Regions from separate parts of the Homo sapiens genome. Here regions 1 and 2 are each linked to region 3. Evidence: fine-mapped expression QTL. A gene starts in region 3. Each other region holds a variant in brackets. All regions are shown on one strand. Distances are from middle to middle.

Region 1 (2,817 bases), 80 kb after region 3:
ATTGTCCCTGACAAAATGGTCCTTTTGGAGGGCCTTTTTTGGAATGATTGCCTGCAATTATCTGAATTAATTCAAGCACCAACTCTTCAAATTCTGAGAGTGGACTTGATTTTTGCAAGCTGCTTGGTGAGTAAGATCAGCAATCAAGCTGGGTGGTACTGTTTTAGATCAAGAATGAGAAGTGACTGTAATGAAAATATTTCGTTTTGGGGGTCATAAATTGACCCTGAATTCCTGTTCTCTTCTTTAACCCAGGTTCCATGTTGCTAGCAGAGTTCCTCCCTCAAAACATAGAGCTGATATCACTTAACAGCTTGAAAATCTTCAGTGGTTCCCTATTACCTTCAGAACACAGGCCAAGTTCTTTACTGACTTTTTGTTTTGTTTTGTTTTGTTTTTTTGAGATGGAGTTTCGTTCTTGTTGCCCAGGCTGAAGTGTAATGGCACGATCTTGGCTCACCGAAACCTCTGCCTCCTGGGTTCAAGCGATTCTCCTGCCTCAGCCTCCCGAGTAGCTGGGATTACAGGCATGCACCACCACACCCTGCTAATTTTGTATTTTTAGTAGAGACAGGGTTTCTCCATGTTGGTCGGGCTGGTCTCGATCTCAGGTGATCCACCCACCTTGTCCTCCCAAAGTACTGGGATTACAGGTGTGAGCCATGGCGACTGGCCACAAGCCAAGTTCTTTAGCTCTGTGGTTGGGGTAAAGAAGAGCCAGCAATGGAGTCAGACCAGAATGGGTTTAAATCCCACCTATGAGCTCTGAGGCAAGTTATTCAGTCTCTCAGACTCTCAGCTCTCTCATTTGTAAAAAGAAGGCTAACGGGCCAGGCGCGGTATACCCAACACTTTGGGAGGCCAAAGTGGACAGATCGCTTGAGCTCAGGAGTTTGAGACCAGCCTGGGCAACATGGTGAGACCTCGTGTCTATTAAAAAATTTTTAAAAATTAGCTGGGTGTGGTGGTACATGCCTGTGGTCCCAGCTACTCGGGGGACTGAGGTAAGAGGATAGCTTGAGCCCCGGAGGTTGAGGCTGCAGCGAGCCTATCAATACCTACTTTGTTAGGTTGTTTTGAGGACAATGGTAATTTTAAGGTGTATATAGTAGCAAACTCAATAAATAGCAGTCATTCTTCAGCATGGCATTCATTGCTCACTGCGACCCAGTTGCAACCTATCTAGAAGAAACCTCAGATCTCAACACACTCCCTGCAGACACACACCATTCCAGTTACATTTGCCTACTGAAATTCCTTAAACAATACAGAGATTTT[T/TTTTC]TTTCTTTTTCTTTTTTTTTTTTTTTTTTTTTTTTTTAGACAGGGTCTTGCTCTGTCCTCCAGGCTGGAGTGCAGTGGCATGATCTCAGCTCACAGCAGCCTCAGCCTCCTGGACTCAAGTGATCCTTCCACCTCAGCCCACGGTGCCCCCTCTCCCCCCAGTAGCTGGGACTACAGGCACACACCACTACACCCAGCTAATTTTTTTTTTTTTTGTAGAGGCAGGGTTTTGCCATGTTGCCCAGGCTGGTCTCGAACTCCCAGACTCAAGCAACCTGCCTGTCTCACCCTTCCTAAGTGCTGAGATTACAGGCATGAGCCACTGCGCCCAGCCTAAACGGAGATTCCTTACCTCTGGCCTTGCTTATGTTGTTGCTCCCTTTGGGGTGTCTCTTTCCCCATCTTCCTTCTTTACATGTTATGTAATACACCGTTTCCTCTGTGAATATTTATCATTTCCTTATCTGCATACATGACTTTGTCCCCAGCCAAATTGTAATCTCCTTGAGTCAGGAACTGTGTTTCCCAATTCATTTTAGAAGCTCCCAACAATCCCCAGCAAGGTACCTGGCCTGGAAACAGCCTGTTAGTAAATGTCTGTTGAACGAATTCATTCCAAAAGAGTTTATTTTATTATTATTATTAACGTTGCTTTTCTTACCAAAGGGTGCATTTTGAGGAATGGCGTTAATCTATATGTGCAGTATAAAATTTACATGTGTCTCACACTCTTATTTATTTAGAAACTCATCTAACATGTTTACCAGTTTCTGTTCATAGAGATGAGGAAGAGATTAGGAAACAGATGAGGACCATACACACATTGATGCTAGAATATAATTTGGCAGCCATTCGATTAATTTCTTTTTTTTTTTATTGAAGTATGACTTACCTACAGGAAAGAGCACATATCTTAAGTGTAAACTCTGTGACTTTTTTTTTTTTTTTTTTGAGACAGAGTTTCACTCTTGTTGCCCAGGCTGGATTGCAATGGCAAGATCTCGGCTCACTGCAACCTCCGCCTTCCGGGTTCAAGCAATTCTCCTGCCTCAGCCTCCCCCAGTAGCTGGGATTACAGGCACCTGCCATCATGCCTGGCTAATTTTTGTATTTTTAGTAGAGACGGGGTTTCACCATGTTGGTCAGGCTGGTCTCGAACTCCTGACCTTGTGATCCGCCCGCCTCAGCTCCCCAAAGTGCTGGGATTACAGGTGTGAGCCACTGCGCCCGGCCTGTGACTTTTTACTACTACTCAGATCAAGATAAAGAACATCATTTGATTTTTAAAGGCGTTTCTACTTTCAAATATCTCTTAAATCCCTTCCTGCCTTTTAACCTCCACCCTCACCCCACTACGGAGTCTAATCAGTCTCTCTCTTTCTTTCCCCAGTGCCTGGCTCATGGCAAACACTCAAATATTTGAAATAATGAATCAACAAACAAATATTGTTGAATGAATGAGACCTAAATTGGAAGGAAATGGAGGTCTGTAAGGTTGTGCCCAGACTGTTTTGGGTAAATTATTCAACATTACCTGCA
Region 2 (2,844 bases), 59 kb after region 3:
ATCCACCTGCCTCAGCCTCCCAAAATGCTGAGATTACAGGTGTGAGCCACCATGCCTGGCCCACACTTCTTTTTAAAAAGAAGGACCAGGCTGGGCAACGGTGGCTCATGCCAGTAACCCCAGCACTTTGGGAGGCTGAGGTTGGAGGATCACTTGAGCTCAGGAGTTCAACACTAGCCTGGGCAACATGGTGAAACGTTGTCTGTACTAAAAATACAAAAATTAGCTGGGCATGGTGTTGTATGCCTGTAGTCCCAGTTACTCGGGAGGCTGAGGCAGAAGGATGGCTTGAGTTCGGGAGGCAGAGGTTGCAGTGAACTGAGATCACGCCACTGCCCTCCAGCCTGGGTGACAGAGCAAGACTTTGTCTTAAAAAAAAAAAAAAAAAAAGACCAGAACCAGTGCCATGCTGAAGCTGGCTTGCACTGGATCCTAAAAGCCAATTATGTGCATTTCCCAACTTTGCACTGGGATTTCCAGTTGGTGGCTTGAAATGGGCTTTTGTGGAAATATTTACACCACAGAAATAAGCAAAGGCTACAAATCAGGGCTTCAGCACTCCAAGTGAGAGCCAGCCAGTAAACTTTTAGCAGCACGACACTGGCCAGAACTCTAACATGTTATATAAAAACACATAAACAGGCTGGTCACAGTGGCTCATGCCTTTGGGAAACCGAGGTGGGCGAATCCCCTGAGGTCAGCAGCTCGAGACTAGCCTGGCCAACATGGTGAAACCCCATCTCTACTAAAAATACAAAAATTAGCCGGGCATGGTGGCGCATGCCTGTAATCCCAGCTACTCAGGAGGCTGAGACAGGAGAATCGCTTGAACCCAGGAGGCAGAGGTGGCAGTGAGCGGAGATCATGCCATTGCACTCTAGTCCGGGCGACAGTGTGAGACTCTGTCTGAAAAACAAAACAAAACAAAACAAAACAACAAAACAAAAAAACACACATAAACAGAACTGCTTTGGTTGGTTGAAACAAGGGTTCCCCACTCCCCTCACACACATCAAGCTTTGCCAAAACCCAGGACTTGAAGTCTGAGATTTGTGCCAGCTCTCAATCCTGTGAGTCTAAGTAACAGGCCACAAGAGGTGATGCAGGAGGAAGAATGACGAACAATGATGAGGCTTAGGTTTTATGACTGTATTTAGCTAATCGAGCCTTGTCTGTGTGGGCAAGTCAACTTTGATGATCCAGGAAGCACCTCTGGAGTTGCTTAACCCTGCAGGTCCCAAGGCCTTCTGGTGGCCTCGGCAGGTAGTGGCACCCTCCAGAGCAGTCTCTCACTAGCGGATCTCTCAGTGGGTGGCAGGAGGATGGCTTTAGGGGAGGGAATGTCACCCACCTCCCCACAACTGTGCCTCTGCCCTGCAGG[G/T]TGAAGGTAAATGAAGTGACATTTGAATCCATTCAGATACTGCAGGAGAATGAATGCTGAATGAATGAATGAATCCAGGGAGAGCTGGAGCCAAATAAGCTTCATCAATTTATGTGGTGGGGAGGATGCTAGCCAGGAAGTGGAGGCCAGTGTTCAAATGCAGGGCTCAAGCCATAGCTCCAGCAGTTCCTGACCATGACATTTTTTGTATTTCAGTACCGTTTTGTAGAATGGGGCTACTGAACCAGGCTTAAAATCGTATTTCAGTCTGGTCTTTATGATGGGGACGGTAGGGGTGAACATGGAGCTCTCATTCTGCATGTAGTGGAAGGGCCCACCCCGCAAGCATGTTTCGCTGCTATTTTTGCCAAGGTTCTGTGAAGATTTCAATATTCCCAAGCTTGCTATCTTTCAAGCCTAGTAGAATCAGCTGGGCTGATATCTTCTAGCTGGTGGGAAAAAATGCCAGCAAGCAAAAGAAAAGGAGAGGAGAAACAAATGTTTGTAACTGAAAGAAACCTGGCATTTAATCTAGTGATTTCTATCTGCCAATCATCAGAATTGTCATTACCTGGGACAATTTAAAAAGTACAATTTCTAGGCCAGGCGCGGTGGCTCACGCCTGTAATCCCAGCACTTTGGGAGGCCGAGGCAGGTGGATCATGAGGTCAGGAGATTGAGACCATCCTGGCTAACACGGTGAAACCCCGTCTCTACTAAAAATACAAAAAAATTAGGCGGGCAAGGTGGTGGGCGCCTGCAGTCCCAGCTACTCAGGAGGCTGAGGCAGAAGAATGGCGTGAACCCAGTGAGCCAAGATTGCACCACTGCACTCCAACCTGGGTGACAGAGCGAGACTCCGTCTCAAAAAATAAATAAATAAATAAAAATAGGCTGGGCGTGGTGGCTTACGCCTGTAATCCCAGCACTTTGGGAGGCCAAGGCGGGCAGATCATGAAGTCAGGAGATCGAGACCATCCTGGCTGACACGGTGAAACCCCATCTCTACTAAAAATACAAAAAATTAGCTGGGCGTGGTGGCGGACGCCTGTGGTCCCAGCTACCTGGGAGGCTGAGGCAGGATAATGGCGTGAAACCAGGAGGTGGAGGCTGCAGTGAGCTGAGATCGCGCCACTGCACCCCAGCCTGGGCGACAGAGCGAGACTCCGTCTCAAAAAATAAATACATAAATAAATAAATAATTTTAAAAAATAAAATAAAAAGTACAATTTCTTACCCTGCCTCTAGACATACTGATTATTAAAAATCTCCCGTTGGGGAGGGGTCTGGTGTTTGGGAACCAGCACACTCCCTCTCCTGACCTCCCACAGCAGAGGGTGAAGGCTACCACCAGCTGACCAGTCATAAGACTTTGTCTTCTTTCTGTTTCTAAAAGAGATTTCCTCATTTTCCCTTAGCAAATAGGGAAAGACCAAAAAAAAAAAAAAAAAAAAAGAGTTCTT
Region 3 (2,500 bases):
CCATTTTTCAGCCTTGCATCCACAGCCTGGAAAGGCTATGCACAGCCACCTGCTCAGTGTACTCTCAGTTGGCAATTGCTTGCATTGACCTAGGGGCTAGACTCCTACTACCTAGCATGGGCAAAATGTGGAAAAAGGGAAGCTTGACAAAGATTGGGGAGACCCTGGAGAAATGGGACATTGGCAGCCTTGCTATCTACCAGGACACTGGCTCCTATGAACTCCAGTGCACCATGGCAGGGGAAACCATGAGCAAAGGGAGTAAAATGCTCTGACCCTTGCTTAAATAAATGAGGCTGGAGGGAAGGGGTTTAAAACTAGAAGAGGTGGCGGGCGCGGTGGCTCACGCCTATAATCCCGGCACTTTGGGAGGCCAAGGCGGGTAGATCACTTGAGATCAGGAGTTTGAGACTAGCCTGGCCAACATGGTGAAACACCGTCTCTACTAAAAATACAAAACTTAGCCGGGCGTGGTGGCGGGCGCCTGTAATCCCAGCTACCCGGGAGGCTGAGGCAGAGAATTGCTTGAACCCGGGAGGTGGAGGTTGCAGTGAGCCGAGATCGCGCCACTGCACTCCAACCTGAGCGACAGAGCTAGTCTCCGTCTCAAACAAAACAAAACAAAACCAAAACTAGAAGAGGAAAACCACTCTGGTCTGGGATACCTTGGTCCCAAATTTCCTTCTTCCCCCTTCCCATTCAGCCATCTTCCTTCTCACCTCACCGTCTCTTCCTCACCCCACTGCACCTCCCCACTCGGGGCATGGTCCACAAGTCATTTCAACCTCTCCCACTCTCATGCCCTAATTTCTCCCCACAACCAGATTACCCTTTTCTCTATGTGTCCCCATCACCTTGCCTCAGAGTCTGGCCCCTAATTCCATTTTCCATTTTTCTTTTCCCATTCCACTAGTCTCCCTTCCCAGGGGGTACTTCCTGCCCTAAGCTCACCTACAGGCACCTACTATGGGCCAGCCACTTAATACTGACTACTCCCCTCAAGCCCCCGGGACACATCCTCCGCCCCGCCTGAGCTGCAAGAGATCCTCCTATACCTTTAACCAACCTCCACGTGCGTGTTAACCGCGGTGACAGCATTTCCTTGTCTCTCTGCTCCCGCCCCCAAAGGCGCTACCCATTGGCCGCTGGGTTCCTCTGTTCTCGCTCTAATTGGCCTCGTTACCGAAAAGCTCCAACCAATGACCTCTCCGTGTCTGTCTCCCTCCTCCGATCCTGGAAACTCATTGGCTCCGAGGACTTAGGACCTGTTAGCTTGGTTGGGCGACTGGCAAATCCTTCCTTCCCCGGGGTAGAAGTCCAGGGTGAGAAATTGGTTCCGAACTCAAAGGAACCCAGTGCCGGGCCACAGCCGGGTCACGTGGCCGGCGGCCCCCCATGACGTGCTGGCTGCGGGGCGTCACGGCGACGTTCGGGCGACCTGCCGAGTGGCCAGGCTACCTCAGTCACCTGTGTGGTCGCAGTGCTGCCATGGACCTGGGACCCATGCGCAAGAGTTACCGCGGGGACCGAGAGGTGCCGCCGCTAGGGCCAGGCCTCCTGCAGGGGCGGGGGAAAAGGGGTCCCCGGAGTCATCTACAGCGGGGAGGGGAGTAGTAGGAGCCCCTCGGGGCTTCTGGGGCCACCCGGTGGGGCAAGGAGGTTTGAGGATCACCCCCCGTGGGAAAAGGGGGCTTCAAAGACATCCCACCAGGGGAGGAGTTCCGGGGAAACGCAAATGAAGATGGGTTCAAAAGGCAGCCTTTCGTAATGGGTAAGAGCTCGAACTTTGGAGCCTGCCTGGGTTGGAATGTTTAATGTATCTGGGCCTCAGTTTCCTCATCTGGGAAGTGATAGTATCTGCCTCACGGGGATGTTATGGTCTAAGATGTTTGTAAAGTGCTTAGAACCCTGCTACTCGACAGGTAGCAAGGTCAAATAACTTGCTCAGTCCCACAGCTAGTGATGAATGAATCGGGGTTTCATGTGATGGATGTCAGGACTGTGCTGGGCCTCCCTCAAGGGCGGGGGAAGAGGGGTCCTCGGAGTCATCTACTGGGGGGAGGGGAGTAGGAGGAAACAGCCCCTCAGGGCTTCTGGGGCCACCCCCTGGGGCAAGGAGATTTGGGGGTCACCCAAACCTCCTTGTGCCAGGTGGGCATGGTCATGGGCCCCTCTTTAGGTGGGTACAGTGACAAACAGCTTACAAACTGTTTGACAAAAAAGTAAGTGGAATATGGGGGAAGGGGACTAGCTCGGGGAGGAGGGGAGGAGAAAGCTCTTAGCTTACTGCCTTCAGTACTTTCTGCTGACCACTGGGAAGTTCTTTTCCTTTTCGCTCCTCAGGAGGGGAACCAAGAGAACCTTTTAGGAATTGGGGTCCAGGGCCCTGGTTGCCAAATCTGGTTGCATGTGGGCATTTCTAGAAACGCTTGTTTAAAATGCAGTTTTTCCAGCCTGGGCAACATAGTGAGACCCTGTCTCTACAAAAAATTAAAATTAG

Direction of the effects. Positions count from the first base shown, and alleles are read on the strand shown. Sizes are in standard deviations (SD) of each study's normalised expression.
In carriers of allele T in region 1, the expression in monocytes after interferon gamma of the gene that starts at base 1,291 in region 3 tends to be higher than with TTTTC alone (moderate effect, 0.55 SD a copy in Fairfax 2014).
In carriers of allele G in region 2, the expression in transverse colon of the gene that starts at base 1,291 in region 3 tends to be lower than with T alone (moderate effect, 0.53 SD a copy in CEDAR).

What was found.
Region 1: its variant is fine-mapped to the expression of PNPO in monocytes after interferon gamma (Fairfax 2014, PIP 0.95).
Region 2: its variant is fine-mapped to the expression of PNPO in transverse colon (CEDAR, PIP 0.95).

The regions. Positions count from the first base shown.
Region 1 is chr17:48,020,415-48,023,231 of GRCh38, forward strand. No RefSeq gene overlaps it. Among named protein-coding and RNA genes, the nearest start is that of MIR10226, 11 kb to the right of the region's middle. The variant T/TTTTC (reference allele first, on the strand shown) is at 1,279.
Region 2 is chr17:47,998,613-48,001,456 of GRCh38, forward strand. No RefSeq gene overlaps it. Among named protein-coding and RNA genes, the nearest start is that of CDK5RAP3, 29 kb to the left of the region's middle. The variant G/T (reference allele first, on the strand shown) is at 1,382.
Region 3 is chr17:47,940,281-47,942,780 of GRCh38, forward strand. PNPO (pyridoxamine 5'-phosphate oxidase) reads left to right here and starts at 1,291. Exons shown (of 7, transcript NM_018129.4): 1 at 1,291-1,533. The coding sequence starts at 1,396. SP2-AS1 (SP2 antisense RNA 1) reads right to left here and starts at 1,124. Exons shown (of 3, transcript NR_103857.1): 1 at 1,067-1,124. RefSeq lists an enhancer at 1,043-1,337.